Linked DNA regions of Homo sapiens. The protein of the gene in region 1 interacts with the protein of each later gene in a pairwise test. Each region holds a gene or a part of one and is shown on either strand. Other genes may lie near its edges.

Region 1 (2,987 bases):
GATATAGCAGAGATTAAAAAGATGTCTACAAATGTGAAAATTTACATGCAAATTCTGCAACACTGTAAATGGCCAAAACTGCTGAAGACTAGAAAGTTTAAATGAGGTTTCATGTAATAGCTGGCCATAACTGTTGAAAAAAATAAACTGTATAAAAGTGTATGAAGTCAGCTGGGCACGGTGGCTCACAGCTGTAATCCCAGCACTTTGGGAGGCCAAGGCAGGCGGATCATGAGGTCAGGAGATCGAGACCGTCCTGGCTAACTCGGTGAAACGCTGTCTCTACTAAAAATATAAAAAAAAAATTAGCCGGGAGTGGTGGCGGGCGCCTGTAGTCCCAGCTACTCAGGAGGTTGAGGCAGGAGAATGGTGTGAACCCGGGAGGCGGAGCGTGCAGTGAGCCGAGATCGCGCCACTGCACTCCAGCCTGGGAGACACAGCGAGACTCTGTCTCAAAAATAAAAAACAAAAACAAAAACAAAAAAAAGTGTATGAAGTCAGAAGTAGGCTTTGAAAAATGAAATAGTTGGAGATTTTAACTTTACCTGCCCCCACTAGGCAATACGTTTTAATGTATAAACTGTTAAGAAATAAGTGAACAAAATCACACCAAAGGAAATCTGCCTATTTTATTTCCATTAGAAAAATATTATCTATATAACATTTTGTTCCACTATCTTCTCCTTGATCTCAAATTTAAACACTTTAATTTTACTCAAGTAAAAGCAGAATCACATAACGGACATCAAAACTAAATAGTTCACATCATTAGTTTAAATTAAATATGTTCTTGATTATTTCTCAGGAATAGTAACTCTTCTTTCCTACCTGGTATTTCTCTTTTGTTTACTGAGTAACTATGTAATGGGTATCTCTTTCCTATATTCAGTAATACAGGTGCACACAGGTGTAATTTAAAAAAGTAACTGGATTCCTTCTCTAATATTCATGTTCAACTCTCCCTATTACATGGTATTTCCATAATAGCTTCAGATATTTTCATCAAACTCACACTGTCATCAATTGTGAAAATTAAAAGGTTAATTAAGATGTTACATCAATTGTAAAAATTAAAATGTTAACAATTCCAGACTACACAGCACTGGGCCCACTTATAGTGATGCCGTTGTCAGTGGTCCTTGGATAGCTACTGCTTCAATTTCAATTCGGCTGCCCTGTGAGGAAAATGAAAGAATTTGTTGTAATCATTTTGTACAAATTGCAAACTCTATAATACCTACTAAAAACATGCAACCAACAGCAATATAACATTTTTAACATTAAACTTTTCAAGGAAGGAAAGGAGAAGGAAATATTCACCAAGAACCTATAACAGACCAGGTTACCATGCTAGGTATATTCATATACTATATTAGCTTATGTGATTCTCACAGAAGCCCTATTAGAGACGTATTTTCCCCTCAATTCACAGAATGATATGCTGAAGTGTAGAAGGAGTAATTAAGTCATCCCAAGTCACAAGCTAGATAGCAGAGGTTGAACCCTTGTCTTGTGATTCCAAGTTCAGAGCTCTTTCTACTACACCCAGTACCTTAATAGGTTTGATAATGATCATTCCAAGTAACAACTAATTAAAGCAATACAAATGACACTCTTAAAACATAAATTTTCTTTAGTAGAAACTGCAAGTGGAAGTCAGTAAGAGCTGCTTTTTTATAGGCAGGAATATTGTGCTGCTAAGCTTTGAGTTAAAAGTAGCAAAATCAAAATGGTGAGAAATATGTGTGCCCCTGGTTTAGAGATTATTTTTCTAGTGGAAGGCTTAGATTTTTAATTGTACAATATCCAGGTGAAATTTTTACTGCAGAACTCACAAACAAACCTGGCTCAAATTTATAGTCCCCTAAGTAACACTACAACAGTACAGCTGCTATTTTATTTTTTCTCACAATTTTTTTTTTTTTGTGATGGAGTCTCGCTCTGTCGCCCAGGCTGGAGTGCAGTGGCGCGATTTCGGCTCACTGCAAGCTCTGCCTCCTGGGTTCATGCCATTCTCCTGCCTCAGCCTCCCGAGTAGCTGGGACTACAGGCGTCCGCCACCACACCCGGCTAATTTTTTTTTGTATTTTTAGTAGAGACGGGTTTCACCATGTGAGCCAGGATGGTCTCGATCTTCTGACCTTGTGATCCGCCCGCCTCGGCCTCCGAAAGCGCTGGGATTACAGGCGTGAGCCACCGCGCCTGGCCTTTTCTCACAATTTAAGTATTTTGATTCTGATTCTATGTTCATGTGCTGTCTTAAAAGGTTTCTTAATTTTTTTTTCATGCATGTAATATGGGATATTTCCTTTCAGACTTTAAGTCCCTGGGGAAGCAGGGTCTATTTCTTTTCTTTTTTTTTTTTTTTTTAAGAGACAAGGTCACACTGTTACCCAGGCTGCAGCACAGTGGTTCGATTATAGCTCACTGCAGCCTTGAACTCCTGGGTTCAAGTGTTCCTCCCACCTCAGCCTACCAAGTAGCTGGGACTATAGGTGTGCACCACCACCATGCATGGCTAATTTTAAATTGTTTTTGTAGGGATGGCTGTCTTGCTATGTTGCCCAGGCTGGTCTAGAACTCCTGGCCTCAAGCGATCCTCCTGTGTTGGCCTCTCAAAGCACTGGGATTACAGGGGTAAGCCACCCTGCCCAGGCTACTTCTTTTAAGTTTCCTTTCACAGTGCTTAGTTTACTTATAGAAGGAAAACAATGTAGAAACTGAAAACTGTGTACATTAGTCATTTAAAGTGTACTTACTTTGGGTAAAGCAGCAACTTGGTAAGCAGCTCTAGCAGGAAAATTACTCTTGAAATCTGAATTTAAAAGAATTTCATTTTTTTAATAGAGAAGAGTTGAAAAAATAAAGATCAAGTGAAAATTTTTATTTTAGTTTTCAGATATTCTATTGTTATTCAATATCTACAATTAATAATCTGGCAAATATTTCATATACTAGTCAGTTCTTAGATATAAGCAACATTTATT
Region 2 (3,823 bases), on another chromosome or scaffold:
TTTTGTGATTCCTTTTTTTTTTTTTCCGAGATGGAGTTTCACTCTGTCGCCCAGGCTGGAGTGCAATGGCGCGATCTCGGCTCACTGCAACCTCCCCTTCCCTGGGTTCAAGCAATTCTCCGGCCTCAGGCTCCCCAGTAGCTGGGATTACAGGCATCTGCTATCACACCCAGCTAATTTTTGTATTTTTAGTAGAGACAGGGTTTCACCATGTTGGCCAGGCTGGTCTTGAACTCCTGACCTCATGATCCGCCCACCTCAGCCTCCCAAAGTGCTGGGATTACAGGCATGAGCCACCGTGCCTGGACTTTGTGATTCCTTTTGATGAAATGTCCAGAATAGGCAAATCTATAGAGACTGAAGGTAGATTAATGGTGCCTAGGGCTGGGGTGGGAGGGGGGAAGGGAACAGAGGGGGTTGGGAGGTGCTGGCTAAGAGGCTCAAGGTTTCTTTTTGGGGTGACAAAAATGTTCTAAAATTGATTTTTTGCCCAGGCTGGAATGCAGTAGCCTGATCATGGCTCACTGCAGCTTTGACCTCCTGGCCTCAAGTGATCCTCTCACCTCAGCCTCCTGAGTAGCTGGGACTACAGGCACGAACCACCATGCCCAGCTAATTTTTTAAAACTGTTTTTTTTGTAGATACAGGGTCGCCCTGTGTTTCTCAGGCTGGTCTTAAACTCCTGGCCTCAAGCAATCCTCTCACTTCAACCTCCCAAAATGCTGGGATTATAGGTGTGAGCCACTGTGTCTGGCCTAACTGTTTTTGTTTTTCTTTTAGACAGGGTATCACCCAGGCTGGAGTGCAGTGGCCTGATGATGGCTCACTGTAGCCTCTACCTCCTGGGTTGAAGTGATTCTCCCACTTCAGCCTCCCCAGTAGCTGGGACCACAGACACAGATCACCACGCACAGCTAATTTTTTTTTTTCTTTTTGTAGAGATGGGGGTTTCGCCATATTGACCAGGCTGGTCTCAAACTCCTGACCTCAAGTGATCCACCTGCCTTGGCCTCCCAAAGTGCTGGGATTACAGGCATGAACCACCATACCTAGTCCTAAAATGGATCTTTTTTTTTTTTTTTTTTTTTTTTGAGACAGAGTCTCACTGTGTCGCCCAGGCTGGAATGTAGTAGCGCAATCTCGGCTCACTGCAACCTCCGCCTCCCGGGTTCAAGTGATTCTCCTGCCTCAGCCTCCTGAGTAGCTGGGATTACAGGCATGTGTCACCACGCCTGGCTAATTTTTGTATTTTTAGTAGAGGCAGGGTTTCACCATGTTGGTCAGGCTGGTCTCGAACTCCTGACCTCATGATCCGCCCGCCTCGGCCTCCCAAAGTACTGAGATTACAAGCATGAACCACCACACCCAGTCCTAAAATGGATTTTGATGATAGTTGCACAACATAGCAAATAGCTAGAAATCATAGAATTGTACACCTTAAAAAAATGACATGTTATGTGACATATGTCAATAACACTGCTAAAACCAAACCAAAAAACCCTCCAGTGGTTTCTGGTCACAAAAGAACAAAATCCAGATTCCTGAATAATAGCTCACAAGAGGAACTGGCTCTTGCTTACCTGTCTGACCTAGGTCATCGCTCAAAAACAGCCTCCCATCCACTCTAGCCTATTCTTTCTGTTCCTCAGACGCTCAGGGCATGCTCCTACCTCGGCCCTTGCTGATCCCTCTGCCAGGAATGCCTTTCTTCCCGCTGTTCACATGGCCAGCTCCCGCTCATGATCTAGACTTCACTCAGATGTCACCTCCTCAGAGAGGCCCTCCCTGACCAGTCTCTGTAAAGCAGCCCCAGGCTGCCTGTTTGAACTTCCTGCACTGACTATCTCTGACCGTGCTTTTATTGTTTATTTGTTTGTCATCTGTCTCCTCCTCCCACATAGACCCTAGAATAAATGTCCTTTGCCAGCAGGGACTTGGTCTGGGCTCCCCTCCGGGCTGAGACAATATTTCTGAAAAGATGCAATGCAGAGCTCATACTCCCCCCACAAGGCTGCGGATCCTGCCTGGGCCTCACCTCCAGGGCATCAATGTTCTCCTTCACCTTGATCTTGGCCGTCTTCAGCTTCTCCCGCAGTTGTTTGTAGTACGTGGAGGGAACAGATAAGAACTCCAGGCCTCTCTCTCTCAAGTGGCGAATCTGTTTCAGAGCAAAGCTGAGGTCAGCCTTCGGCCTCCAAGTTCAACTCCCCTAGCCAGGTGGAGGTGCTGGGTCATCAGGATACAGGGTCCCTATCCTAGCTCCCCTCAACTGCCAGGATGCTGTGTGGCCTCTTCCCCTTTCTTCTCTGTCATGGGCCCCGTTAGAACAACAACTGCTAGATTTATAGAACACTCACCATGTGCCTGCCTTGAGCACTTTCTTTTTTTCTTTTTTTTTGAGATGGAGTCTCTGTTGCCCAGGCTGGAGTGCAGTGGCACGATCTTAGCTCACTGCAACCTCTGCCTCCCGGTTCAAGCGATTCTCCTGCTTCAGCCTCCTGAGTAGCTGGGATTACAGGTGACTACCATCACACTCAGCTATGTATTTTTAGTAGAGATGGGGTTTCACCATGTTAGCCAGGTTGGTCTCGAACTCCTGACCTCAGGCGATCCACCTACCTCGGCCTCCCAAAGTGCTGGGATTACAGGCGTGAGCCACTGAGCCCGGCCTGAGCACTTTCTACGTATTCCCTCATTATGTCCATGCAGCAATCTTTTGAGGCAGCTGAAGGACTATTCTCCCATTTCATAGCTGGGGAAACTGAGGCATGAAACGATTAAGGATCTATTAGGCCGAGTGTGGTGGCTCACGCCTGTAAGCCCAGCACTTTTGGAGGCTGAGGCGGGCAGATCACTTGAAGTCAGGAGTTGGAGACCAGCCTGACCAACATGGCAAAATCCTGTCTCTATTAAAAATACAAAAAAAAGGCCGGGCGAGGTGGCTCACGCCTGTAATCCCAGCACATTGGGAGGCCAAGATGGGTGATCACGAGGTTAGGAGATCAAGACCATCCTGGCTAACACAGTGAAACCCCTACTAAAAATACAAAAAAAAAATTAGCTGGGCGTGGTGGTGGGAGCGTGTAGTCCCAGCTACTTGGGAGGCTGAGGCAGGAGAATGGCGTAAACCCGGGAGGCAGAGCTTGCAGTGAGCCGAGATCGCGTCACTGCAATCTAGCCTGAGCAACAGAGCGAGACTCTGTCTCAAAATAAAATAAAATAAATAAAAAATAAAAAATAAAAATAAAATACAAAAAAAGTTATCCAGGCGTGGTGTCATGCACCTGTAATCCCAGCTACTTGGGAGGCTGAGGCAGGAGAATCGCTTGAACCCAGGAGGTGGAGGTTGCAGTGAGCCAAAATCGCACCACTGCACTCCAGCCTAGAAGACAGAGCAAGACTGCATCTCAAAAAAGAAGGATATATATATATATACACACACATATATATATTTGAGAGACAGGGTCTTTGTTCTGTCACCCAGGCTGCAGTGCAGTGGCATGATCTTAGCTCACTGCAGCCTCAACCTCCCCAGGCTCAGCTGATCCTCCTACTTCAGACTTCTGGGTAACTAGAACCACAGGTGTGCACCACCACACCTGGCTAATTTTTTGATTTTTTTGTAAAGATGAGGTCTTATGGCCGGGCGCAGTGGCTCACACCTGTAATCCCAGCACTTTGGGAGGCCAAGGTGGGCAGATCACAAGATCAGGAGATCGAGACCATCCTGGCTAACACAGTGAAACCCCGTCTCTACTAAAAATACAAAAAAAAACATTAGCTGGGCGTGGTGGCGGGTGCCTGTAGTCCCAGCTACTTGGGA

The links.
Region 2: the proteins of RIDA (region 1) and HPD interact in a two-hybrid assay, tested with the Homo sapiens proteins (one large-scale study listed by BioGRID and IntAct).

What each region holds. Positions count from the first base shown.
Region 1 is NC_000008.11:98,101,730-98,104,716, forward strand, and holds the end of RIDA (2-iminobutanoate/2-iminopropanoate deaminase), read right to left. Parts: intron 2,816-2,987; coding exon 2,760-2,815; intron 1,176-2,759; coding exon 1,113-1,175; 3' UTR 615-1,112; downstream 1-614. UniProt on the Homo sapiens protein: Catalyzes the hydrolytic deamination of enamine/imine intermediates that form during the course of normal metabolism. May facilitate the release of ammonia from these potentially toxic reactive metabolites, reducing their impact on cellular components.
Region 2 is NC_000012.12:121,841,675-121,845,497, forward strand, and holds part of HPD (4-hydroxyphenylpyruvate dioxygenase), read right to left. Parts: intron 2,159-3,823; coding exon 2,036-2,158; intron 1-2,035. UniProt on the Homo sapiens protein: Catalyzes the conversion of 4-hydroxyphenylpyruvic acid to homogentisic acid, one of the steps in tyrosine catabolism.